4 linked regions of the Homo sapiens genome follow. The protein of the gene in region 2 purifies or fractionates together with the protein of the main gene of each other region. This does not show direct contact. Each region holds a gene or a part of one and is shown on either strand. Other genes may lie near its edges.

Evidence for each region.
Region 1: the proteins of MAPK10 (region 2) and WDR62 purify together in Homo sapiens (affinity purification with mass spectrometry; 2 studies listed by BioGRID and IntAct, with this or other methods). This does not show direct contact.
Region 3: the proteins of MAPK10 (region 2) and CCT6B purify together in Homo sapiens (affinity purification with mass spectrometry; 3 studies listed by BioGRID and IntAct, with this or other methods). This does not show direct contact.
Region 4: the proteins of MAPK10 (region 2) and MSN purify together in Homo sapiens (affinity purification with mass spectrometry; 2 studies listed by BioGRID and IntAct, with this or other methods). This does not show direct contact.

The regions. Positions count from the first base shown.
Region 1 is NC_000019.10:36,064,894-36,071,919, reverse strand, and holds part of WDR62 (WD repeat-containing protein 62), read right to left. Parts: intron 5,963-7,026; coding exon 5,905-5,962; intron 5,664-5,904; coding exon 5,493-5,663; intron 4,615-5,492; coding exon 4,477-4,614; intron 4,093-4,476; coding exon 3,910-4,092; intron 365-3,909; coding exon 204-364; intron 1-203. UniProt on the Homo sapiens protein: Required for cerebral cortical development. Plays a role in neuronal proliferation and migration.
Region 2 is NC_000004.12:86,098,053-86,105,078, forward strand, and holds part of MAPK10 (mitogen-activated protein kinase 10), read right to left. Parts: intron 5,193-7,026; coding exon 5,134-5,192; intron 3,981-5,133; coding exon 3,842-3,980; intron 3,166-3,841; coding exon 3,000-3,165; intron 1,234-2,999; coding exon of another isoform or gene 1,082-1,233; exon of another isoform or gene 550-1,081; intron 544-549; coding exon 472-543; intron 397-471; coding exon of another isoform or gene 389-396; exon of another isoform or gene 1-388. UniProt on the Homo sapiens protein: Serine/threonine-protein kinase involved in various processes such as neuronal proliferation, differentiation, migration and programmed cell death.
Region 3 is NC_000017.11:34,937,459-34,944,484, forward strand, and holds part of CCT6B (T-complex protein 1 subunit zeta-2), read right to left. Parts: intron 5,449-7,026; coding exon 5,338-5,448; intron 5,186-5,337; coding exon 5,026-5,185; intron 3,164-5,025; coding exon 3,081-3,163; intron 2,256-3,080; coding exon 2,159-2,255; intron 1,873-2,158; coding exon 1,725-1,872; intron 1-1,724. UniProt on the Homo sapiens protein: Component of the chaperonin-containing T-complex (TRiC), a molecular chaperone complex that assists the folding of proteins upon ATP hydrolysis.
Region 4 is NC_000023.11:65,733,633-65,740,658, forward strand, and holds part of MSN (moesin), read left to right. Parts: intron 1-1,634; coding exon 1,635-1,798; intron 1,799-3,162; coding exon 3,163-3,293; intron 3,294-3,545; coding exon 3,546-3,706; intron 3,707-4,892; coding exon 4,893-4,985; intron 4,986-5,337; coding exon 5,338-5,562; intron 5,563-6,096; coding exon 6,097-6,261; 3' UTR 6,262-7,026. UniProt on the Homo sapiens protein: Ezrin-radixin-moesin (ERM) family protein that connects the actin cytoskeleton to the plasma membrane and thereby regulates the structure and function of specific domains of the cell cortex.

The sequences.
Region 1 (7,026 bases), on a different chromosome or scaffold from region 2:
TTCCCCCTACCCAGCCTCACTTCTCACTGTGAGGCTTGCCTCGGAAGGCAAGGACTTTTCTGCTTTGTAATGCCCAGGGCTGAGAGTCATGATGGGTATTTGTGGGATGGACAGACAGATAGATGGATCTGGAAGCATGGATGAATGCCAGTGGACAGACTCTGGGTGGGCCCCTCCCATTCCCTCTCCCCACAGGGCAGTACCTGGGCTCCAGGCCCTGTGCCACGTCTACCCCAAGGTAGTGTGGCTTGGGCAGGTTGGCGAGGTAGTGCAGGCTATGGGCCTGGAAGATGCGGACTATCCCATCTGTGCAGCCACAGAAGATGAGCTCCTGGCTGACACAGAGGCAGGAAGACAGGGAGACCTGTAGGGGCAAAAGGGACCCCAGTGGATTTGGTGCTTCACGTGGCCTGGCCCGGGGATATGGGGACTGACAGAGCAGCCTTAGGCCTCCAGAGAAGACTTACAGTTCCTTGGGTCTAAGACACCCATTTTAGCATATTTTAAGATTTGTGAAATCAGGATATAGCATACTGCTGCTATTGAAAGACATGTGCCAGCAGGTAGGCAGAGGCATGAACGGAAACAGAATTGTCACTGCTGTCTACAGAGAAACGTAGCTGTGTATGGAAAATACCTGTTCAGCAGACTGCAACTTCAGGTAAGTCACTTGTAGTAACAGGGTTGAATTTTAGGCTTAAATTTTTTTTTTTTTTTGAGATAGAGTTTTTTGTTGCGCCCAGGCTGGAGTGCAATGGCACAATCTCGGCTCACTGCAACTTCCACCTCCTGGGTTCAAGTGATTCTCCTGCCTCGGCCTCCAGAGTAGCTGGGATTATAGGCGGCCGCCACCACACCCAGATAATTTTTTGTATTTTGAGATGGGGTTTCACCATGTTGGTCAGGCTGGTCTTGAACTCCTGACCTCAGGTGATCCACCTGCCTTGGCCTCCCAAAGCATTGGGATTACAGATGTGAGCCATCGCGCCCAGCCTTTAGGCTTAAATTTTATTCCCTTTTGCTTACAAACAACTTCATAAAGACTGTACTCCAAAGCGGTACAGAAAAAAGTTACAGTATCTAGAAAGGACTGTCTATCCTACTAGGAAGTGCTAGACCTCTAGATACAGTTTAAGGAGTTTTTCCAAATCTACAGGGACTTAATTTATGAGTCATTTAGTGCTTAGGAAATAAACATCTATCTATTGAAAGCTTTTCACTTGCTTGAAAAAGAGAAAATGATGTTTAACCAACTAGGACAGAGATAAAACTTGGAACTCTTCCACAAGCCATTAACCTCGAAGGTGATCTCCAGAGTGAGTCACAAAGGCAGGCCAGGAACAGGAGAGGAAACCACAACGCTCGGGCGGATAGCCAAATGGGCAACTGATTCCAGATGGGAAAACAGCTTTGACTCAAACCTTCAGATACTAAAGGAAAGAAGCTCTGCAATGTATCGATAGATCATGCTTTAGTTTAAAAGTTTATGGCCGGGCGCAGTGGGAGGCCAAGACGGATGGATCACTAAAGGTCAGGAGTTCGAGACCAGCCAGGCCAACATGGTAAAACCCTGTCTCTACTAAAAATACAAAAATTAGCTGTGCGTGGTGGCAGGCACCTGTAATCCCAGCTACTTGGGAGGCTGAGGCAGGAGAATTGCTTGAACCTGGGAGGTGGAACTTGTAGTGAGCTGAGATTGCGCCACTGCACTCCAGCCTTGGCAACAAGTGAGACGCCATCTCAAAAAAAAAAAAAAAGTAAAAATAAATAAAAATAAATAAAAGTTTATGTATTTTGTGTAGTCTTTTTTGACTGAAAAGTTATTAAATCAATGGTACCTCCAATTTTTAAAAAATGCAATCCTCCTCTCCCTCTCCTTCTCCCCACGGTCTCCCTCTCCCTCTCCCCACGGTCTCCCTCTCCCTCTCTTTCCACGGTCTCCCTCTGATGCCGAGCCAAAGCTGGACTGTACTGCTGCCCTCTCGGCTCACTGCAACCTCCCTGCCTGATTCTCCTGCCTCAGCCTGCCGAGTGCCTGCGATTGCAGGCGCGCGCCGCCACGCCTGACTGGTTTTCGTATTTTTTTGGTCTCCACCAAACACAGGGTTTCGCTGTGTTGGCCGGGCTGGTCTCCAGCTCCTAACCGCGAGTGGTCCGCCAGCCTCGGCCTCCCGAGGTGCCGGGATTGCAGACGGAGTCTCGTTTACTCAGTGCTCAATGTTTCCCAGGCTGGAGTGCAGTGGCGCGATCTTGGCTAGCTACAACCTCCACCTCCCAGCCGCCTGCCTTGGCCTCCCAAAGTGCCGAGATTGCAGCCTCTGCCCGGCCGCCACCCCGTCTGGGAAGTGAGGAGCGTCTCTGCCTGGCCGCCCATCGTCTGGGATGTGAGGAGCCCCTCTGCTCGGCTGCCCAATCTGGGAAGTGAGGAGCGCCTCTTCCCGGCTGCCATTCCGTCTAGAAAGTGAGGAGCGTCTCTGCCCGGCCGCCCATCGTCTGAGATGCGGGGAGCGCCTCTGCCCCGCCACCCCGTCTGGGATGTGAGGAGCGCCTCTACCCGGCCGCGACCCTGTCTGGGAGGTGAGGAGCGTCTCTGCCTGGCCGTCCCATCTGAGAAGTGAGGAGCCCCTCCGCCCGGCAGCCGCCCCGTCTGAGAAGTGAGGAGCCCCTCCGCCCGGCAGCTGCCCCGTCTGGGAAGTGAGGAGCGTCTCCGCCCAGCAGCCGCCCCGTCCCGGAGGGAGGTGGGGGTCAGCCCCCGCCCGGCCAGCCGCCCAGTCCGGGAGGGAGGTGGGGGGAGTCAGCCCCCGCCCGGCCAGCCGCTCCGTCCGGGAGGGAGGTGGGGGGTTAGCCCCCGCCCGGCCAGCCGCCCCGTCCAGGAGGGAGGTGGGGGTCAGCCCCTGCCCAGCCAGCCGGCCCGTCAGGGAGGGAGGTGGGGGTCCGCCTCCGCCCTGCCGCCGCCCCGTCCGGGAGATGGGGGGTGCCTCTGCCCGGCCGCCCCTTCTGGGAAGTGAGGAGCCCCTCTGCCCGGCCACCACCCCGTCTGGGAGGTGTACCCAACAGCTCATTGAGAACGGGCCATGATGACGATGGCGGTTTTGTGGAATAGAAAAGGGGGAAAGGTGGGGAAAAGATAGAGAAATCAGATTGTTGCTGTGTCTGTGTAGAAAGAAGTAGACATGGGAGACTTCATTTTGTTCTGTACTAAGAAAAATTCTTCTGCCTTGGGATGCTGTTGATCTATGACCTTACCCCCAACCCTGTGCTCTCTGAAACATGTGCTGTGTCCATTCAGGGTTAAATGCATTAAGGGCGGTGCAAGATGTGCTTTGTTAAACAGATGCTTGAAGGCAGCAGACTCGTTAAGAGTCATCACCACTCCCTAATCTCAAGTACCCAGGGACACAAACACTGCGGAAGCCCGCAGGGTCCTCTGCCTAGGAAAACCAGAGACCTTTGTTCACTTGTTTGTCTGCTGACCTTCCCTCCACTATTGTCCTAAGACCCTGCCAAACCCCCTCTGGGAGAAACACCCAAGAATGATCAATAAAAAAAAATAAATTAATTAAAAAAAAATGCAATCCTCTACCAGCCAGAGTGCTCAAAGGAGAAAAGAAATGTGAAGTAGATCAAATAGTCATGGGAAAACAACTGTCACCTTGAGCCCATTTCAGGGTACCAAGCACCGTGCTCACTGCCTTGCCTATGTTATCTCACGTGACTTCCTTATCAGCTCTGCGGGGAGGGCAGCAGTACTCCCATTTTACAGATGTGGAACCTTAAGCTCAGAGAGTGGGCGTCATTCACCACTAGTCACATAAGCAGAACCTGTGTGGTCAATGCTGATGAGCACCCCTGCAGACACATATCACGAGAAAGAGTCTGTCCAGCTGATGGCAGAGAGGGAGGTGGTACCTTCAGGTTGATCCACTTCTCCAGCACCCTCTTCTCATTGAACTGGCAGAGGAGGCCCGAGTAGGACACACAGAAGGTACTGCCCGCCATCCGGCCCCGACCGCAGGCCACACCACAGAAGATGTTGTTGTGCAGCTCGCCCAGGATGCCCGAGCGCCCTACAAGGGGCACTGTGCTCGTCACCTGGAGACACAGAGGGCGTAGTGAGATACTTGTCCACACAGCTGGGCCCTGCATGACCAGATGATAGGACACAACAAAACAGGAGAACTCTAAGAAGCTCTTCCAAATGGAGAAGGGAAGAAAACACTAGAACCCTGCCACTCTGGACAGAGGGGCTGGACAGCAGCAGTCCAAGAATGAGAGCTGGTCCCAGGGTCAGGGGGTTCCTGGCAGGGCCTGTGCATCAGCACCCTGAGAGTAGGCCCAGAAGCAGCAGCTGGGCCCCTGAGAGGCCAAATGGCCCGAGACCGCTGCCCTCAAATCTCAGGGAGAAACAGGAGACCATGCTGCCACCGATGGTGACTCCCTCAGGGCCTGGCTAAAGGGGCAGGGACAGAAACTCACCTTTGTCTCAGTGGAGACTTCCAAGAACCAGAACCTCACATGGCGGTTCCCAACAGTGACAAAATAGCTGCTGTCCTCTGAGAAGGAGAGGGCAATGACTCTACAAGATACCTTGTTGGAGGCCACTACGATGTCTTTCTGGAAGAATAAGTGCAGAGAAGCTCATGCCAGCACTCATTCCACTGGACTGTTTGTGCCTTTGCCCTCAGGCTGGAACTCCCTGCTCGTCCCCACTCCAAGTCTGTCTTCCTGGGACCCTCCAGGGAGCTGCTGTATGGGGAAACCTATGTGGGGCACCCTGCTCATTCCTCACCGACAGAGGAAGGGACAGAGGCTTGGAATGGTCCCCATGGGACAGTATGTTCCAGAGCTCTCTCCAAGGGTCTAAGCTCTGCAGCCCACACATGGTATTGGGGACAGTCACGGCTGGGATGTAAGGACAACACAACCTATGGCTGTCACAGATGGGGCTCCTGCTCTGGGCCCTGCCCTGAGCCCTTCACAGGATAACCCATGAAATTTCCTCAATCCCTCAAAAGCCCCACGAGGGAGGCGCTTCTCCCCAACCCTACCAGGCTCAGAGGGGGAGATGTCATGTGCTCAAGGTCACATAGTGGGTTATGGGCAGAGCCAGGACTTGGTACCCACTTCTGCCAGCTCCACAGCTGTTCCAAAGCCCAGCCTTCCAGTGCTTATCAACTCATTAAAGTCTCACAACTCAACAAGATAAGTACTACTATATCCATCTAACAGAGGAGGAAACAGACTCACAGAGATGTTAAGTCACTTGCCTAAGGTCACAGCTGGTCAATATAAAAATATGTATAATGCTTCTAGCTGGGAGCCTGCCTTGTGCCCTACAATAAGGGATCAGCATGTCACAGGTGCTCAATAGCTGTTATCTGTTGGGTGAGTGAGCACTTTACTGCGTCCTCTCATGTAGCTCTCCCTGTGCCCAAGACATAGGATGCTGTGGCAGCTGGCTGCCTGCCACAGGCCTGCTGGTCGGCTCTTACCTTCCAGTCCCAGACGTTGAGCACCATGTCATGTTGGTAGCCCATGGACACGATGTGCTTCATATTGGGTGAGAAGGCCACACACGCCACACCATACTTGTGGCCTAGCATCTCCGCCACCTGATTCTTCTCCTCCACATCCCAGATGCGCACAGCAGGCCTATGCCCATTCTAGGGAAGGTGGGGTCGTTACTGCTGCTGGGCTCTGTACTGGGCAGGGCTAGAGGGTTGTCAAGGCCGAAGATGGCATTGCCACAGGATGTGCCCAAAAGCCACCTCCCCCATCTGCTACAGGGCTGTTCTGGCCCAGGAAGGAGCTATTCCAGGGACTCCCAGGCCTGCCGGGAGCAGAAGGAATGGCTTCCAAGACCCCCCAGCCCCCGACTCCCACTCAGTCACGATCACGACTCACCTCCCCTGTCACTATGTACTTCCCATCAGGGGAGAAGGCCAGAGCACTGAGAGACTTCCTGGGGATAAAGAAAAGAGCTGATCACTGGTTCCGCTGAGGGTGGCCAGCCAGACCCCATCCTGGCGACTCTGATAGGACTCTGCCCTCTTCTGCCTCCCAAGCCTCGGAAGAGGCCAGCAGAGGTGAGCTCAAGCAGCTCCCACAGAGCCAGTGCCGCTGGTGTGCCCAGCAAAGCACACAGAGAAATGGGGGTAAATGCAAAGGCCCCTTCCGCCCTGAGACACCAAACCCAAATGGAGTAGACACTGTATGCGGACCCTGCTTTCTTCTCCCTCTGCCGCAGTGGGTATCCTAAGACCCTATCCACCCTGTAACACTGAGAAATAGAGATGCAGGAAATGGTACAGGCCTGGCCTAACTAAACGGGTGGTGCTGATGGGAGGATCCTGGCAGGCATCACATCAAGGTAGCCTGCAGCCTGTGCTCCACTGCTAAATACTCAAGGTGTTCTGGAAAATCCATAAAGAGCCAAAATGTTTCTGATACTCCTAGCTAGCCTGCACAAGCACTGAATGAACAGGCTAGCTCGTAGGTTTCTGGCAGCAAGATTCACTGTTCCCAGATTGTATGGTTTCCTTCTACTCCCTTCTCTCTTTTAATCTTATTTTTACCTTTGTTCCTTAACAATCTAATAATTGTCTCCCTACGTGAGATGGTAAATTGGTGTGTAGATAACTAAGTAAATGTCGCTAAGTGAGACTTTGGCAACTTCATGGAATATTCATCATCAAGTCAACCTGCTTCCCAGGCTTCCCGTGGCTCCTTACTGCAACAAACAGGGCAAGCTGCCTCCTGGATATCCACTCGCCTCTCTTTCCTTACTGACATAACCCCAGTTTTATGCTTGCAACTATGCAGGTACAGCTACATGACTTAGTCTGGCCAAGGAGAAGTAAACTGACATGCTGTGTGGGACTTCCTGAAATACTCGTCAAAGGGAACCCTTTGCCCTGCTTCCTACCAGTTCCCCTCCTGAAATACGCACACGACAGCCAGAACTCCATCTTGGGCCATGAAGTGACTTCAAGACCAGAAGCCTCACAATAAATGGGGTGGAACAGG
Region 2 (7,026 bases):
TTTAGTGTCGAGTAATTTAAATCAACAAAGCCATAGACAGAAGCTTAGAATGTCAGCAAGGAGAGCAATTATTATGCCTAAATATTGTAGAAGCACAAAATAGTTTTAGAAAGGAGATGGAAAATGACTTGCAAATAGTGACTTATTTTGCTAGTTATAAAGGTAAATATATTTTAATCATTTGGGATCTGGTAGCCTTTGTTATTAAAGAAAAATAGCATTTCTATTTTTAGTTGCAGGCAAGAAAGTAATTTTAGAAGAAAAAAGCCCATTGAAATTTAATTAAAAGAAATCATTGTGGTAGGCAGTCTTCAGTACTGGTCAGATTATAGAAATTATCACTTTTTTATTACAATAACACCACTTACCCAACTTTTTGCTTCTATCTTTACTCTCCTGGTAAAATCATTATGTGTTTAAAAGGGAGAGAGAACAAAACAGGTAAAGCTGTAGCAAAAGGTACAAGGATACAGTCCCTTCCTGGAAAGAGGATTTTGTGGCGAACCATTTCTCCCATAATGCATCCCACAGACCATATATCCACTAGAACAGGAGAGAGAGGGTAGTGAAGAAAAGGGAGGAAAGTAAAGTTAACTAAGATAATTGACTTCTGAAGGAGGAGGAAAAAGAACAGTTTGATTAAAAGTACAATTTTCACCTCCCACCAAAAGTTGGCCAAAATGTGAATTCAAACCAGCGCTATGCTATTACATAAACAGTGTTTAGTATGAGAACTCAAATTAATGTTTAAAAACCCATTACTTTGTGGGTGCCTTACATTGCCTCTCAGCAGTGCCACAAAGTGGTGACATTGGTGACTGAGAAAAGCAATAGCTAAACCAAAAGTATCTCCATGGCAGGTGACAGCTAAAAGCCACCAAAGGGTTTTCTGTGTCATTTTCCGGATGCATAGAAAACAATATTAACTTGTAGAGTTGGCTATTTTCATTTTCTATTCTATTCAGTTACAGAGAATAGGGCAACAAGAGACCACCTTTTTTTTCAGGGGGCCAGGGGGCCGGGGCAAAACAAGATAAATTCAACCAAATCCAATAAACCAGGAAATGACTGGAACCATGGTTTAGAGGCAAAAGAATTGGAATTCCTGGTATTTGGGACTTAGCTTTTCCTTCAGAAGTTTATTCTTGTAAATAAACATCAGTTTTAGTTTCCATTTGAAATATTTCAAGAAAAAAGACATATGATGAATTAGCACATGTATAAAGGAGTCATCTGGAAGGAAAGTGAAAAAAGTATTAAAGGTGTTAAAAATTGTTATGTACATATATTTATTTCCAAATTGTCAAACTTGTTAGGAAAACATGCTTTGCCTTCTCTTACCAATCTTTACCCCTTTCCAACTTGCTTTTCATTATGGACAAAGGGAACTTTTGGGCAGAATCATTTGGCCGAATTGTTCCATGGGGAAGGAAGGCGGGGCTAGGTGCAGGGGACAGCAGGGCATGCCTGATGTGGGAGCAAGCAGGTTTTTCTGCATGATAACCTTCCTCCCATTGGTGGGAGGGCAGCACCAGGGTGCTAGGCAGGCCTCCTCCATGGACTTAGAGAAGTCAAAAACCTAAGGCAGCAACTTGCAATTCCTTCTAGTGAGGGAAGGGAAAGGGATTTTAATACCAGCTATTGGTAGTGCCAAGATCTGAAAGCCCAAATAGGCAAATTCAGACCGCCCCACCCCCCAGTCTCCTGTACATTCTTGATTCTTGACTTTGTTTCTCCTTTGACTTTTTAAAAATAACTCGTGAAGAAAGTATAAAAATGTCTTCTTTTCTGAATAAATTAGATGTGGTATTGCCTAGCAAGGAGGGCTAGATTCATCTCTTCTGAGTCAAAAGGTACCAGAACTCCGATATTGCCCACCAGGGTGAACCTGACCTTTGTAAGAGGTGACTTTTTAACTTCCTCTGTATAAATGCATACATACATTATCTGTCTTCTAATCTAAGAGTATACAAAGAAGTTTCTGTAAACTTCAGTGGCCAGGGAATTTTCACAAAAGTACCCTGTAGCACCTGTACATAAAAATACACTGATTATTTTTATAAAACTTATTAATACAGACTGCTAAAAACTAAATAGAATAGAATATAAAAATAAATATTAAAGATACACTGAATACATATACAATCCTAATTTAAAACTATTTTAATTCCTAAGTATATTGAATATGTTTTCAATATGGTGCATTACTTGTAAGATATAGTCTCATCAAAATAATACATTGCAATGCTTTCTAACATATTTAATAAATCCTTAGTTTTAATCAACTACACTCAATTGTGATACATTTTTAAGATTCCTTCCATAGCCTTCATTTTAAAGTGTTCATGAACATTAAGTTTTCTTTATGAAAGCAGTAGTGTCAAATTTGACATTTTCCTTTTTTACGATTTTTGGAATATATAAGGATTTATTAGGCAATTGCTACTCTAAATGTTTCTTACAGAGCAGCTTAAATTATTACAGAAATTCTTATTCAGTTTAAATAATTTGGATTATTTCAAAGTTGTCTATGAAGATTTTCACTCTAAGGATTTGTGTCACTTTTTTGCTTGTCTTTTTCTAGAACTACAGCCATCAGTCTGAGATACAACATAAAAGCCACATGGCTAACTGTGGTAGATTCCTTTCTGCTTTCACACTCATGCTCAGCTGAGCTGCAACCCAAATAGCAATTTTTCTCAATATCTAGGCACGTGTGCTAATCAGCATCCGCTTGACTGTTTAATCAGACTCCATTTACAATTCTTTTTCACTATTAACATTTAGTGCTCTTCTAGCAAAACTGACTTCTCAATAACATCCTTCACATTTTTAATGAGTGTTTCTTACCAGTAGTATTAAAAAAAACCCTGAATATGCTATCTGGCAGCCCTACTTTATAAAAGCATGTACATAAAAGAGAACATTCCCCTTGGCTATCTACAACGTGCACCCGTTTCATTCATGGTTTTGATGCTGCTCTCCCGAAGCATCCCTACCGTTCTCCTTGTAGCCCATCCCCAGGATGACCTCAGGGGCTCTGTAATAACGTGTCACCACATATGGAGTCATCATGAAGCTTGTGCCTGCTGTCCTGGCCAGTCCAAAGTCCAGGATTTTCAATGTGCAATCAGACTTGACTACAATGTTACTTGGTTTTAAATCCTAACAGTAAGGATAAGGGAAAAAATTAAAAGCCAGTATCAAGTGAAATGTTATTTCCATTGACTCAATCAACATAGCCATTTTGCAGTAGCACTGATGAGGTCCCCCTTGCCTACAGAGCTCTAAATAAGGCAAATGATTACTGCTACAAATAAGTTAACTATTAGTTTTTGGAAAGTGTTTTAATCCCAGAAAAGAATTGTATTATCATTTTCACAATTTACACTAATCTTGGGAAGAGGTTTTAGAAAAAAAAATATTTATTGTCTTCTGTTAGGTTTCTCCTTAGGACAACATAAATCTTTCAACATATATATCATTTCTAGGCCTGACAGAAGAACAGATCAGGGAAGCTGTCTTTATGCTGCCAGAAACATCTATGGAAATGAATTTTCTTATTTCAGTTGCACATATGACTTCTGCCAATCAAGGAGCTGAAAGCATGAGGCTTCTAAGAAGCTGCATCTCAATGAGCCAAAACATAACATTGAACAAACTCAACTACAATATAACTAGAATTTCCTTCTACAATTAGTGAACTAGGTGCTAATTCTAGTATCAAAGAAATGAGGAAGTATATTATATTTGACCAATGCCCCCCGTATAAAGAAAATAATCTACAGTTACTCTTCCTCTTAAAGCATTTGAATTGTAATCCTAGAGAAGGTGTTCTTACCCTGTGAATAATTCCAGCAGAATGGAGGTGCTTAATGCCACACAACATTTGGTACAGCAGGTAAGACATTCGCTCATGGTCTAATTCCATCTGAATCACTTGACATAAGTTGGCATCCATCAGTTCCATTACTAAGTAACTAGAAGGGTGAATCCACAGTGTTAGTTCCAGATCACAAGATCTATGAAGTCCTTTGATTTAGTCAGAATGCTCTCCTAACTCTGTAAGTCTTCTGAACTTCTTAGCTCTGCCTTTGACTTAATCAAGACTGAGCATTTCCAGGTATTGCATGTGTGTTAGCTATACGAACCCTACCAAAAGGTTGCTAGTAGAAAAAGCATTTATTAATGTCTGGTTCATGTCCACAGATTTGTTACCTTAATTTTGCTTTCACTTTCCCCTGTATTCCCTCAACTCTTTTGTGAATATTATAATTTCAAATAAGAAAAAAATTAAGGACAGCTTCTTCCATTAAATTCAATGTATCTGTATTAAAGACAAGGTGCTAGGGAATCACTTCCTCTCCTCCATCTGTTGTCACTACTGGGTAGACTTTGCACAAAATCAATGACACTATAAAGATAGAAAGAATAAAGATAATTTTCACGTCCCTTTTATTACTATTTCTTTTTGTTTGTTTGTTTTGAGACGGAGTCTCGCTCCGTCACCCAGGCTGGAGTGCAGTGGTACGATCTCAGCTCACTGCAACCTCCGTCTCCCGGGTTCAAGCAATTCTCCTGCCTCAGCCTCCTGAATAGCTGGGACTACAGGTGCATGCCACCACACCTGGATAATTTTTGTATTTTTAGTAGAGGTGGGGTTTCACCATGTTGGCCAGCATGGTCTTGATCTCCTGACTTTGTGATCCACCTGCCTCGGCCTCCCAAAGTGCTGGAATTACAGGTGTGAGCCACCATGCCTGGCCTTATTACTATTTCTTCAGGTAAATTAACTCATTGTAGAAAGTTTGTGGAATCTATTAATAAATATAAATAAATAAGCCTTCCCTGAGTGACCAAGAGCATGGAACAACAAAGTATATAAAGCCACAAGGCCAAAAGGAGGCAGAATGTCTTTCCAGGAAGTAACCCCACAAACAGAATCTTCTTTACATATCACTGGACCCCTTTCATTTGACCCCACCTCTTACCTCTCTTTGAGCAGTATAAGGGATTTCAACTCTGTGTGTGTGTGTGTGTGTGTGTGTGTGTGTGTGTGTGTGTGGTGTGTGATTTTCCCTTGGGCTATCTGAGTGCTGTGCTCTCCCTTCCTTCATGAGTTTTGTTACTTACACATCTTGGAACTCCTCCAGCGTTTTCTGGGGTGTGAAGACATTTAATAAACTAATAATCTGAAAGAGAGTGGAAGGGACAGAGGAAACGAGAGAAAGAAAAAAGAGAGAGAATGTATTATTTTTAAATTGTATTTCAACTCAAAGTCACTCACTAGTGCTATGGCAGAAATGGAGAAGTTGGAAAAATGTCTTGAGCTGTCTCAGAGGACACAGAAAAGTATGCTCAGAAAGAACAGATGATCTGTCTTCAGGTTAATAATGCAGCTAAAAAGCTCAATTCTTGGGCAGAAGCAAGAGTCAGAGAGATGCATAATTGTTACACTGCTTTCAAGTGTGATTCCTCGTGGCAGAATATGGGCCTTCGGGGGATTAAACAAAAAAGGAAGAAATGCCATGTGAGGAGAGAGGTGGCAGTAAAACACTCAGTGAGACTTAGCAAGGGGATACTTCTCCAAATGAACAAAGTTGTGTTCTACTTCATGATTTTTTTGTGTTGTTACTTTATATTTTTTTTTACTTCTACCTCACACTCAAATATTAAACTAATGCTCCAATAATATGTGTGGGGAAAGGTGCATTCTAGATGATATCAATGATGGATTTAATAGAAAATTATTTTAAAGTTATTTAAATTCAGTTAAAAGCTTTTTGTTTCCTGCTTTATTTTATATATCAGCTAGTAAAAAAATCTACCTTCTAGTATAAGCAAATTTTGTAAAAACCCCTTGTCACATTTCTCAGTAGAGTACATACATCAATAACTCAAAATGTTCTTCCAGCTAAATATTTGGTACTAACGTGCCAGTAGGAAATGAATATAAAAATATATAAAAATCTTATACTCACAAGATAGTTGCAACTATTTTATAAAAATTAGATAAGTACAAGGTCAAGATTTAAGCAGCTTCAAAGCATCAATCAATGAATTTCAGTAAACTTTATAAATGATATAAAGACATGTGGAGTAATAAACATAAAACAAAATTAGTTTAAACACCTGAGAAATTGACTCAATTCTATGGAATGTTTTATGTCTCACGTAGTTTTAACTGATTGAGAAATTATTGACAAAAAATAACCACAGTACCATCCAATATTTTCTAGTATACATATATATGGCAATGTTGTAATATAGTTTTAAAAATACAAGATCATCTCTTCTAAAGCAACCTTGCAGTGTGGAATATTCATATAGAAATAAAATTGTTTTAAAATTATCTTTATAACTTGTGATTAAAGTGCCATGTTATTCTGTGTACTCAGTGCTAGTGAGTGTTGAAAAATGACTATGAAGTACACCTTTCATTGGAACATCTACAGTGGGTCTGTTTCTCTAGGACTTTATCAATCTCATAAAGTAATTTATTTCATTTTGCTATTTGTTCAAACAAAAATATTAGAGACTGTGTATACAGCACACATTACATCCACACAAACATTCACATGAACACTACTTAAAAATGGAAAAATGCTAACCCAGATCACTTAGTGAACAAATAATCTAGATAATTTAAAAAATATAGAAAATAGCATTACAATTTTAAATAAATCAAGATTTATTGTTTTAAAAGGTAATTTATCAAGATCTATTCCCTACTGTATGTTCTTATTTTCCCTTTTCCTATGACCTTGTTTTATTACTTTTTACTCTTCGAGAATTTCTCTTCTATCCTTCATTTGCTCTCTTGTAAATTCTAATTCCTACCAATAGTCAATTTTAAAAAGGCATCTGTAGAAGGAGATTATCACAGCTATAAAATTTCCATTTTAATCCAACAGTTTCCAGACAGGAATCTCAGTTCTTTTATTCCAGCATCTTGAGACACACAGATGTGAATCTATGTTTGTCAGGCCCCACTAGTTCCTGGAATTGAATATTTATTTTCTTTTT
Region 3 (7,026 bases), on a different chromosome or scaffold from region 2:
TTCGGTGGTGAAAGTAAAGTCTTTTCAGCAAATAAGACTAAAACAATCTGATACCTTTATATGAAAAAAATGAACTTGTATCCATACTTGCACCATATACAAAATTTAACTTAAAATGAATCACAGACCTAAATGTAAAACATAAGACTGTAACACTTTTAGAGGAAAATCTTTATGACCCTAGGTTAGGTAAAGATTTTTCAGATACCACACCAAAAGCATAATCCATGACAGAATAAAAATAATAAATTAGACTTCATCAAAATTAAGAACTTCTCTTTGAAAGGCACTGTTAATAATAAAATAAGCCACAGAGGAGAAAAATTTGCCAATTATATATCTGAAAAAGCACTTGTACCCAAATTATATACAAAGAACTCTCAAACTCAACAATAGTATACTAACACAAATTTTTTTCTTTTCTTTTCTTCTCTTTTTTTTTTTTCTGGAAACAGGGTCTCACTCTGACGCCCAGGCTGGAGTGCAGTGGTGTGATCATAGCTCACTGTAACCTCAGACTCTTGGGACTCAAGTGATATTCCTGCCTCAGCCTCCTAAGTAGCTGGAACTACAGGTACAGGCCACCACGCCTGGCTATTTGTGTGTGTGTGTGTAGAGGCATGGTCTTGCTATGTTGCCCAGGCTGGTTTCCAACTCCTGGGCTCAAGCAATCCTCCCATCTTGGCCTCCCAAAGTGCTGGAATTACAGGTGAGAGCCACTGTGCATGGCCAACAATCCAATTATTTAAAAGGGCAAAAGATTTAAACAGAAAATTCACCAGATATACAAAGGGCAAATAAACACATTAAAAGATGCTCAACATGGGCTGAATGTGGTGGCTCGTGCCTACAAATCCCAGCACTCTGGGAGGCTGAAGGGGGAAAACTGCTTGAGGCCAGGAGTTCAAGACCAGCCTGGGCAACATAGACAGAACTCATCTCTACAAAAAAAAATTAAAAATTAGCCAGGTGTGGTGGCATGCACCTATCGTCCAGCTGAGGTGGGAGGATCACTTGAGCACAGGGGTTTGAGGCTGCAGTGAGCCATGATTGTGCCACTGCACTCTAGCCTGGGTGACAGAGCAAGACCCTGTCTTGAGAAAAATATATATATGTGAGGTTTGCAGCCAGGCGCAGTGGCTCATGCCAGTAATCCTAGCACTTTGGGAGGCCAAGACAAGTGGATCCCTTGAGCCCAGGAGTTCAGGACCAACCTTGGCAACATGGTGAAACCTCATCTCTACCAAAAATACAAAAATTAGCCAGTTTCAAAACCTGGTCTCAAAAGAAATAAATAGATTAAATAGATTAATAATAAAAATAAAATTTAAAAAGACTTAAAGGCCAGGCATGGTGGCTCACACGTGTAATTTCAGCTCTTTGGGAGGCCAACAAGGGCAGATCGCTTGAGCCCAGGAGTTCGAGACCAGCCTGGCCAACATGGCGAAACCCCATCTCTACTAAAAATACAAAAAATTAGCCAAGTGTGGTGGTGTGTGCCTGTAATCCCAGCTACTTGGGAGGCTGAGGCAGAAGAATCACTTGAACCTGGGAGGCAGAGGTTGCAGTGGGCTGAGATCGCACCACTGCACTAAAGCCTGGGCAACAGAGGAAGACTCTGTCTAAAAATATACATATATACATACATAGGTGTGTGTGTATATATATATACATATATACACACATATACATGAGGTTCATATCAATCACAAGAAAGAGCTTACCATCTTCAATGGCATTTTTGATAGCACGAAGTCCATCTCTTATGGCATCCTTGACTTGTGTGAGAGTATGCTTATTTGGTCCTTTAACCAACAAGGTAACAGAGCAAGGGTTAACACACTCCTCAATAAAAGTGAACTTTTCTTCACCCTAAAGGGTGGCACAAAAATATATAACTTTAATATTTGATGTCATTATAAAATCAACAATTTATACTAGAATACAATCTTCATTTGAATTTTTCTTATCAAGCATAACTAAGGGAGTTAAGTTATATCTGAACTCTTAACAAACATTTAGGTAAATAAACTGTAAAATCTGTTCTGTGAATTAGATCTCAAAACACAAAACATGAAATAAAAGGTCAAGTAGTATTTTTCTTTAAAAAAGGGGGCTTAGTATTCACTTTATAACCACTGTTCATAGAAATACTCACTAATGTATACTCATACACAAGACCAGCATGTCCCAAGCAATCTACAGTGAGATCTTCAAAAGAATTCACGGCCATTCCACCACAAGCAAGAGAGAGTCTGAAATTACATATATGTCACCATAGCTTGATTATGGAGAACATTAATACTAATTTCTCAGAGAGAAGATATCTAATGCAGAAGACTGTATTGTTACTGTATTGTATTGTTTTGGGTTTTTAATTGTCTAATAAAATTGTCTATATTTATCGAGTACAACATGATGATGTTTTTAAATATGTATACACTGTGGAATGGCTAAATTGAGCTAATTAACATACATATTGCCTATGTGAGGCTTGATTTAGCCATTTGTGTGATAAGAACACTTAAAATCTACTCTCAGCATTTTTCAAGAATCCAACACATTGTGCATTCTCGGGTGGGTTTGCAAAAGATTTTTAAAAAGAACAATATATTGTTATTAACTACAGTTGCCATGTTGGACAATAGATCTCTTGAATTTATTCCTCCTAACTAACTGAAATTTTGTATCCTTTGACCCACATATTCCCAGTGCCCCTCCCCTCCCACTGCCCCAGCCCCTGGTAACCGCCATTCTACTATCTACTTCTATGAGTTCAACTTTTTTAGATTCCATATATAAAAGTGAGATCATGCTGTATTATGTTGTATTGTTTTGTTTTTAAAATCTGTTTTAAAAAGATAAAAACTTTCCTTATACTTCAACAAAGTTCTGCAGTAGGTTAACAACCTTGCTTTTTGACAGTTCAATTATTTACTGAAACTAAAAACAAAATTTGGATTTTTTTATGCCACTGTTTTGTTCAACAACATTTACACATAAGCTAAAAGGAAAACACATGGGATAGTTTCCATTTACTCTGTTAAAAACTTAGGATATATAATTATCTGCAAGCTTACCTTTCCATATTTCTTCTTTTTGCTCTGCGAAGAGCTACTATTCCATGTTTTGCAAGAGAATCTAAGGAAAATGGATCAATTCCCTATAATCAAATTAACATAAAAATTATAAACATGTTTTAAACCAGTATTTCTCAAACCTTTTGGTCTCAGCACCACTTTACTCTCTTAAAAATGATTAAGCACCCAAAAAGCTTTTGTTTATGTAAGCTCTATCTATAATATTTGTATTATAAAAACTGAGAAATTTTTAAAATATTTATTAATTCATTTAAATAATAAGCCCATTTTATGTTAATACACATAACATTTTAAATGAAAATTTACTACACTTTTGAAAACAAAAATATATATAGTGAGCTAGCAGTGGCATTACTTTACATTTTTGCAAATCTCTTCAATGTTTATCTTCATAGAAAACAAATGGATTCTCATATCTCATTCAGTATTCAATTTGGAATGATATGTTATTTTGGTTCAAGTTTATGAAGAAAATCTGGCCCCACACAGATAAATATTGTAAAGGGAGTAATATTTTAATAGGCTTTTCAGATAATTATGGAAATTCTTCTTTGATACTATACCAAAACTCAGTAAGTAATAGTTTCTCAAAGGTTAGTTTCACTATGGAACCATAGCAATGAACTTTTCATACTATCTCACATTAAAACACATTGCTGTAACTTGCACACTGAATGGATTATTTATCCATGTATGATTTTATAAAAATCATGCATTTTTAGTCATGTAGATAGCATCAGTTCACTGAGTTAGGCAAAGTTTCCACATGTTGACACATTTCATATATAAAATGTTGTGTTATACATGTAGAAACTGTGTCATGTTATGCATGTGGAAACTTTGCCTATCTCAGTGAACAAAAACTCACATTTGTTAATATCACTACTATTATCAGGAAAGTCTTTTAAGTATTGGAAAGCTGTCAAGTTCACATGGCAGATACAAGTTTTCTGAAATTCTAATTTTTTAAAAAAGTTCAAATGTTATTGACAACAAATACTGTCAGTTGTTTTAAGTCACAGAATTTCCTCATTCATTTTTGAGAGAAATCTACCAAATACCCATATCTAGATAACCACAGTTTGTCTGTCAGTCATTCTTCCAGGTAAAAGTGGCATTCCATGAAAAAGTGGCTAGTTTACCTTGCAATTTAAACAATTACACAAGTGCTCTCCTTCAAGACAACCATCATATTTTGGTATGCAATAGAAGAGCTTTGAAGTTCCCAGCCCCATAATCCCAACACTTTGGGAGGCCAAGCCAAGAGGATCACTTGAGACCAGCCTGCACAACATGGCAATACCCAGCCTCTACGAAAAAACTTAAAAATTAGCCAGGCATGGTGATGCACACCTGTAGTCCTGGCTACTTGGGAAGCTGAGGTGGAAAGATCACTTGGGCCCAGGAGGTCAACGCTGTAGTGAGCTATGATGGTGCCACCCAAGCACTCCAGCTTGGATGACAGAACAAGACCCTGTCTCAAAAGAAAAAAAAAAAACAGTGCTTTGTGCATACTTCATATTTTGTCACACATAATAATAAAAGGATGCATATTTCAGAATCAAAATTTAATAAATTAATAAGTTTTACCACTTCATCAAGACACTCTTAAATGATACTGCCTTTTTTTTTTTTCACTGTAAGTTTGCAGTGGTATAGCAATAAAGAATGCGATGACTACTAGTATAGTTTGGTGCTACTTCTTTGACTTGTACTAAGGTGCCAGCAGTTTTACAGATTGCTTTTGCAGCATCATTGCAAATGTCAACACAATGTAAAAGGTGTAATTATTATTATGAAAATAGTTTTTGACCTCACAGACTCTCTGAAAAAGTCTTAGGGATTCTTAGGGGTCCACAGACCACACTTCAAGAAATGCTTAAGAACATTTACAAATAACTAAAATCTAAACTTTCTTTCTCACCTTTTGATTAATGACGACAAATCCTTTATTTGACTGAGCACAGACTTTGTCCTTCAGGTCTATTATTTTTTGTACTCTATCTTCAATAAATTTTCTTTCAGCTTTTACCAATTTCTCTTTCTCTTCTGCAGTCTTATAAAAGAAACCAGAGTTCACCTCTCTAAAAGATTAATAAAAACCAGCTAGTAAAGGCAGGAGGAAAAAGGAAAAAAGATAGAAGTAGTCTACACCAAACATCTGGAAGGAAAAAGAGATTTTAAAACACCTTTAGAAAAAAAAATTCAAAAGTTATAAAGAGAAAGTAACACGCACGTTTTTTCATATTCCAGTGAAACGTTGCAAATAAGGATAAATGCATCTTCTACTCGCTTCTTCATATCTGGATGACGGGCACCATGATCCAAAACTAATCCTTGGATCAACCTATTAAAAATATTAATGTTTCTTACTTTGAATATATACTCTAAAATTTGGTATAAAATTATCATTGTACTATTAAAGTTACATCAATACTTCCAGGACACACATTGTTTCCTTGTACCAATTTTAACAGTTTTTGGTGTTTTTGTTTTTTGTTTTCAGAGATGGGGGTCTTGCTATGATGTCCAGGCTGGCCACGAACTCCTGGGCTCAAGCAATCCTCCTGCCTCAGCCTCCCAAGTAGCTGGGACTAAAGGAGTGCACCACCTCACCCACCTCCTTGCATTGACTTTAAACCTAACATATAATTAGTAAAATTAGGAAAGAGAATCTACTTTAACACAGTGTGACTATGAAGTCACAATAAAAAGTCAAGCCAGAATTATTTTCTAAGTTATGTGATTCAAAAATATGACACAGCTTATCAAGTAATGAAAGGTACGTATACAATGAGTTTCTTAGGAACATTTATTCAAAATGATTATATGGAACAACTAAAAATTGTTAACCTAAATGTCCAACAATAGGGTATTATTCAGCAAATAATGACCCAACTATTTGATGGTTATAAAAAGTATGTAATAACATGGAAAAATATTTATAGGGCTAGCTGATAAGCATAGAATGACAAATTGCATATGAAGCATGCCTATAACTGTTCTTTTTAACAACAGACAAGGAAGGGGAACATCACACACCGGGGCCTGTTGTGGGGTGGGGGAAGCGGGGAGGGATAGCATTAGGAGATATACCTAATGTTAAATGATGAGTTAATGGGTGCAGCACACCAACATGGCACAAGTATACATATGTAACAAACCTGCACGTTGTGCACATGTACTCTAAAACTTAAAGTATAATAAAAAATATAAATAAATAAATAAATTTAAAAAAAAAAACAACTTGGCATTAAAAAGAAAAAAAATGGGAGGGACCTAAGAGTAGGGGTTATGCCTGGGTAGTAGGAATATAGATGATTTGGAAAGGAGGTGTTTCTTCCTGTTTTCCAAATAATCTTTCAAGAGTCAATATTTTTATAACTTTATAAAATTCATTTACAAAACATTCAGGGGATGGAATTTCTACTTATGAATCCTTTATAACTAATTTTTGTTATATATTTTTAAACTATTTTAGTTCAACATAATTATAAGGAAGTTTTCAAAATTTTACTTTAACTAGATTACTCCACCTCTTAACAGAATGTAAACATATCTAGAAACAATAACACTATGTTCAACATTCCTCACTCTTCAAGCCTCCTTCACTTTCCTCCCTCCCTACTGTCAGCAAATGACATTGTTTCTTTGAGAAAATAGAAACATTGTCCCATTACTACCTCTACCAATCCACTTGCACTTGACCCTGAACCTCCTACTACTATGAATGAGCTGTCCATGTTCCTCTCTATGGGTAGCCTCTCTACTTGTGTACTGGATTCCATTTCCCTCTCTGTTCTTGCACTGTCCCCTAGTCCCCTATATCAATTCTCACCTAAAGAACCATCCTTACCAGCATACAAACTTGCAGTAACAATTCCTATCATTAATACAAAAAATCCTTCTCCCTCAGCCCCATTCC
Region 4 (7,026 bases), on a different chromosome or scaffold from region 2:
CAGAAAGTGGACACTGTTCACATATTTGATTCCTTCCTTCCTTCCTCTCTCTCTCTCTCTCTTTCTTTTTTTTGATGGAGTCTCGCTCTGTTGCCCAGGCTGGAGTGCAGTGGTGCAATCTTGGCTCACTACAACCTCAGCCTCCCGAGTAGCTGGGATTACAGGCGCATGCCACCATGCCTGGCTAATTTTTGTAGTTTTAGTAGAGACAGGGCTTCAACATGTTGGCCGGGCTGGTCTTGAACTCCTGACCTCAGGTGATTTGCCTGCCTTGGCCTCCCAAAGTGCTGGGATTATAGGCGTGAGCCACCATGCCCAGCCCTTGACTTCTTTTTTTTTTATTGTGGAGAAAGGGCTGTGGCCAAAGTCCAAATCTGAAGATGATCCTACAGACTTCTTGGTAGAACTTTACTGCTGCCCTCTCAGACTTTTCTCCAGAGCAATCCAAGACCAAAAAAGTGCTTTAAGTTCATTCATTTCTCTAACACACTCGCCATGCTTCTTACCCACTCAGTAGCCTGCAGCTGACAAGACCAGACAGCTGGTGATTGTGGGTAGGTTAGGAAACTGAGCTGAGTGTCCCCTTTTCTGGGATACTGCATGTCCAACAAGGCCCAGTGACAATGCTGAGCCTGACCCTTTTCATGAAGGCTCAGTGATTCTTCTCCAGCCATGAGGTGCCTGAACTTCCCCTGCTAGGGACTTTACACATGTTGTCTCCTTAAACCCTCAGCAACATGGTCAGGTAGGTACTAAGTAGCATACTAATTTTATGGCTGACAAAACTGAGGTTAGAGAGATGGAGTGATTTGCCCAAGATCACACAGCTAAAAATGGTAGAGCTGGGATTTATACCTGCACCCCAAGCTATATGAGACAGTAGCAGTGTGTGGTCAGTGGCAGAGGAGATGGTGGTGCCCATCAGCTGGTGACTTCGGTCCAGTGGTATTTGTAGTAACAAACTCAAACTCACTGGATTTTCTTGTGTGTTTTCTTTTATTGCTGCTGTGCTCAACTATTATCAGAAAAAGTTAAGTAACAAAGCCAGCTGAGATCAAGGGCTCATTTTAAAAACAACAACCAGGACAAGCAGTGATCAGGAGATTTATGTATTCATGTATGTATTTACAGCCTGCCTTGTTCCAAAAAGGATTTAAGGGGCTGGGTCTAGGATTTGCTTTTAGGAGATTGTAGAAACAGTCCAGCCACCCATACTGCACCCACCAGGGTATTATTCAGGGGTCATTTGGCTTCCAAAAGAGGTCACCTGAGACCTAGCATGTTCCCTAATTAGCAGAGAAAGTTTGAATCCTTCAACTTGATTAAGAGTAATTTAGGATGCTTTCACAAGCAAAGATTGAAAGAAATTGTGGTTTCATAAGCAAAGATTGAAAGAAATTATGGGAAGAACATGGGTTTCAGAGTCAAGAAACCTGGGTTTCTAGTCTTGGGTCTGTCTACTGTCTAACCCTGGGCAAGTCACTTTACCACTCTGATAATTAGTCTTCCCATCTGTAGTGCAGGAGGTCAGATTAAATATTCTTTCCAGTGCTTTTGGATTTAGCTTTTCAGAAGGCAGAAGATCACCTTCACCTGTCCCTCCAAATTCTTTCTGATTGCTGATTTCCCACCAGGACTTCGTCTTCTATGCTCCCCGGCTGCGGATTAACAAGCGGATCTTGGCCTTGTGCATGGGGAACCATGAACTATACATGCGCCGTCGCAAGCCTGATACCATTGAGGTGCAGCAGATGAAGGCACAGGCCCGGGAGGAGAAGCACCAGAAGCAGATGGAGCGGTAGGTGCTGCACACTGATGTGGGGGGCCAGGGCTGGGGCAAGGAAGCTTCTCAAAGGTGCCCTGCATGCTAAGTCAGGACATGAGGCCAACCTAGGACTTCATAGATGAGAGGTTAGACACCAATATTCACATTTATTCAGAAAAAATCTACCAAGTTTGAGGGGCAGTTTTTACAGAGCTGGATCTAGCAGGAAACTGCCCTGTAGGACCTCACAGTCTACTCAGTCTAGTAGCAGAGAGAGGGAAAACAATATATACATAACTCAAGGTACAAAGGCCATGTCATTCATTCACTTAATAAATATTTATTGAGCAATGAATAAGAAAAGACCAAAAATCTCTGCTTTTGTGAAGCTAGCATTCTAGTGGGGAGGAGACGAACATAATAAATAAGCAAATTATGTGGTACATAAGATGGTTAAGAAGTGCTATGGAGACAAAAACATAGAAGAGGGATGGGGAGAAGGGTAAGCCAAGTATTCTGAGGGCCCAGATGGAGAATACCTAGCCAAGGGAGATAAGAAGGTTCCTGGAAGAGGTGCTAGGGCAAGAAAAAGCAAAAGCAAATACTTATTCCAGATTTGTAACAGACTCTGGGAAAAAGAAGCCTAGAGCTGGGCTTTAGGGCAGGCAGTGTTAGACCTGAGGACTGATGCACTAGCCGTAGAGATTACTAGACTTGAAGCACTTCATCCCAGCACAGAGCCAAAACTTGTCTCCCTAACAAGGTGGATAGGGCAGGTCTTATTGGACCATTTTCAAGATAGGGGAACAAGAGCAAAGCAGTGACATAGCTAAGGTCACCCAGTGGGTTGGTGGGAGAGCTAGGATTCCTGACTCAGGGGTACATTGACAGGGCCCCGTGTACACTGGCCTATGTGGGGCTATGATATGAGGACAAGGGTATAGAGGTAAGGGAGGGTGGCCCAAACTCACAATCCCTAAGTGTGTTGGGAAGGTTGGGTTGAGAGACCCAGAGGCAGCAAGCCTTGGAATTCCCCAGGCTTTTTTTTTTTTTTTTAGATGGAGTCTTGCTCTTTTGCCCACGCTGGAGTGCAGTGGCGCAATCTCAGCTCACTGCAACCTCCGCCTCCTGTCTTCAAGCAATTCTCCTGCCTCAGCCTCCTGAGTAGCTAGGACTACAGGCGCATGCCACTATGCCCAGCCAATTTTTTTTGTATTTTTAGTAGAGACGGGGTTTCACTGTGTTAGCCAGGATGGTCTCGATCTCCTGACCTCGTGATCTGCCCACCTCGGCCTCCCAAAGTGCTGGGATTACAGGTGTGAGCCACCGCGCCTGGCCTCCCCAGGCTTTTGTGGAGCGTTGTTATCCTGTTCTATCCATTTTATCTCCTTCCCTAGTGCTATGCTGGAAAATGAGAAGAAGAAGCGTGAAATGGCAGAGAAGGAGAAAGAGAAGATTGAACGGGAGAAGGAGGAGCTGATGGAGAGGCTGAAGCAGATCGAGGAACAGACTAAGAAGGCTCAGCAAGGTGAGGCTTGGAGTCACCTTGGAGATTGGATTTTTCCAGGCCTAACTCTGAGCTGGAGAACCTTCTGCCTGAGCTGTAGACTCAGACAATGTAGTTCAGGTGTGGCTACAGACTAGAAGAAGAATGGGCAAGAAGAGAGCTCAGAACTTTCTGCCAGCTTTGTCTTGGGGTGGATCATTTCCAGGAACGAAGCTATTGTGTCGTCTTTATCTCTGTGCTCTTCACTGCCTTCTCCCCTCCTTTTCTGCTCAGAACTGGAAGAACAGACCCGTAGGGCTCTGGAACTTGAGCAGGAACGGAAGCGTGCCCAGAGCGAGGCTGAAAAGCTGGCCAAGGAGCGTCAAGAAGCTGAAGAGGCCAAGGAGGCCTTGCTGCAGGCCTCCCGGGACCAGAAAAAGACTCAGGAACAGCTGGTAAAGCTGTAGGGTGGGCTGGGATTATGGGAACTGAACTTTCTTCCTTGTCTGCCTACTTACTTATAGCTACTTTTGCTTACATGCTGGCTTTTTAGAGCAGGCTACCACTCCATGGGCCTCCAGCAAATAACTAGTTCAGAAGCAAGCTGAGAAGTCACTAGTGTGGCCCAGAAATTTTTGCAGTCTTCCCTAACCCTTAGTTTCTGTTCACTTTCTTAACTCTTGGGTATCTGAGCTGATTGACCTGGCAAAGGAAAGGGAAGGAGAAAAGAACAAAAGGGACTCATATTTGAGCTCCTGCTGTATGTTGCTGTGTTGGGAATATTTCCCTTTTCCTTACTTATTTCTTCTTCCCAGTAACCCTATGGGATTAACCTCATATGAGATAATATCCCAGATAAGGAAATTAGAGCTCAGGGAAGAGATTCACCAAAGATCACACAATTGTAGCTAAATAAGGATTAGAACCCACCCATTTCTGCCTCTGTTTGAAAGCTTTGCTCCCTGAAATCACATGCAAAACTATGTGTCTATGCATTTTTGGGGCATTTGGCATCCATACTTTCATCACAGTTTCCAAGGGTTCTGTGACTCAGAAGTTAAGAACCTGTGGTCCAAACTCCTTGACATATACTCTTCCTTTGTACTGTTGGAGGTGGGAATAGAGGGAACCAAGACCTGTCTCTCATGAGGAAGCTGTCATGGGAGATTTACCCAAGGTGTGCATAAGCTTTTTTCCTTGTTCAGATAGCTTTGTGACACTTGAGTGTCTTTCCTGTACTTGTCCTGGGAAGACTCTTAGTCGAATCCTGAGCATTCTAGGATATCAGGAAAGGATCTGCCACTTCAGGAAGTGACCCAATGATGGCCAAAGCTTTACTGAGGCCCCCAGCTGCATACTTGCCAAGAGGGGCAGGGGGAGAGATAATGAGGAAGGGACAGAGATGGCATATTGTTTGTCTTCAAGAGGCCTACAGTCTAGGTGGGGGAGCTCTGACTTAAAAGGAAGTGGTGGTCAGGGAAGATGGGACTGGAATGAAGTAGTCTGGTAAAAGAGTCTCTGAGGCAGCAAGCAAGTGGAGCAGTAGGTCCCTTACTAGTCCCCCAGGGGACTTGGGTTGAAGACACCTGGGTCCTGAGGACCAGAAGGCCCAGCTCTCACAGGCTTCCAATTTATCCGTAGGCCTTGGAAATGGCAGAGCTGACAGCTCGAATCTCCCAGCTGGAGATGGCCCGACAGAAGAAGGAGAGTGAGGCTGTGGAGTGGCAGCAGAAGGTAAGACACAGGGCCTAAAGCAAAGCATTGAAGGAATGGGTGCCATATGCATAGGTAACAGCTCCTTAGATTCCTTATGTTTTGGCTCCCTCCCTCTTTCATACTTCCCACAGCAGGCAGCATGGGAGAAGGCACTCATGGTTTCGTCAAATACTTACTGGAGTTCTCTAATACCTCTAGGAAGTTGGTACAATTGCTCTTGTTTTATGGATGAAGAAACTAAGGATCAGGCAGATGAAGTGCCTTGTCCTACCTGGTGCCTGCCTCTTGCCAGACCGTTCTAGGCATATACAGGATGCCACAGTTTAACTGGTCTCACTGACAGTCTTTCTCTCCTTCTGTCACTGGACAGGCCCAGATGGTACAGGAAGACTTGGAGAAGACCCGTGCTGAGCTGAAGACTGCCATGAGTACACCTCATGTGGCAGAGCCTGCTGAGAATGAGCAGGATGAGCAGGATGAGAATGGGGCAGAGGCTAGTGCTGACCTACGGGCTGATGCTATGGCCAAGGACCGCAGTGAGGAGGAACGTACCACTGAGGCAGAGAAGAATGAGCGTGTGCAGAAGCACCTGAAGGTATACAAGTAGGGCCAAGGGGCAAGGAAACTATATGCATTGATTTAGTAGCCCATGGCATTCCCTAGACCATCATGGGGGATAGGTATAAGATCCTGTCCCAGTGTTGTATGGGAGCCCAAGCCGTTCTTAAGTGACAGCTTTAAGGATAGGCACCTCTCACTTATTAATCAGACCTTGGGCTATCTCTTCCCTTTTTGAGATTTTCTCTCTGCCCCACCTCCCACTCACTCCATTCACCTCTTACATTAAGAAAATATCTAGCTGACAAAATTCCCACCTGAATCTTTTGTATGTTGTTCTACTCTTAAAGGATACCCATTATCAACTGGTCCCCTAAGTTTATTTATTTTTTTTTAATATTCTTGCCCCACTGCAGTTCTAACAGAGTTGGAAATGACTCTCAATATTTATATATAGAGAGAAAGGGTGAGGAAGAAAGAAGGAAACAGAAGAGAAGGGAAGTCTGGTCAAATAACAGGAGGTAAAATGAGAGAAAGCCATTGACCTCTGTGTTCCCATACATCCTCACAGGCCCTCACTTCGGAGCTGGCCAATGCCAGAGATGAGTCCAAGAAGACTGCCAATGACATGATCCATGCTGAGAACATGCGACTGGGCCGAGACAAATACAAGACCCTGCGCCAGATCCGGCAGGGCAACACCAAGCAGCGCATTGACGAATTTGAGTCTATGTAATGGGCACCCAGCCTCTAGGGACCCCTCCTCCCTTTTTCCTTGTCCCCACACTCCTACACCTAACTCACCTAACTCATACTGTGCTGGAGCCACTAACTAGAGCAGCCCTGGAGTCATGCCAAGCATTTAATGTAGCCATGGGACCAAACCTAGCCCCTTAGCCCCCACCCACTTCCCTGGGCAAATGAATGGCTCACTATGGTGCCAATGGAACCTCCTTTCTCTTCTCTGTTCCATTGAATCTGTATGGCTAGAATATCCTACTTCTCCAGCCTAGAGGTACTTTCCACTTGATTTTGCAAATGCCCTTACACTTACTGTTGTCCTATGGGAGTCAAGTGTGGAGTAGGTTGGAAGCTAGCTCCCCTCCTCTCCCCTACCACTGTCTTCTTCAGGGTCCTGAGATTTACACGGTTGGAGTGTTATGCGGTCTAGGGAATGAGACAGGACCTAGGATATCTTCTCCAGGATGTCAACTGACCTAAAATTTGCCCTCCCATCCCGTTTAGAGTTATTTAGGCTTTGTAACGATTGGGGGATAAAAAGATGTTCAGTCATTTTTGTTTCTACCTCCCAGATCGGATCTGTTGCAAACTCAGCCTCAATAAGCCTTGTCGTTGACTTTAGGGACTCAATTTCTCCCCAGGGTGGATGGGGGAAATGGTGCCTTCAAGACCTTCACCAAACATACTAGAAGGGCATTGGCCATTCTATTGTGGCAAGGCTGAGTAGAAGATCCTACCCCAATTCCTTGTAGGAGTATAG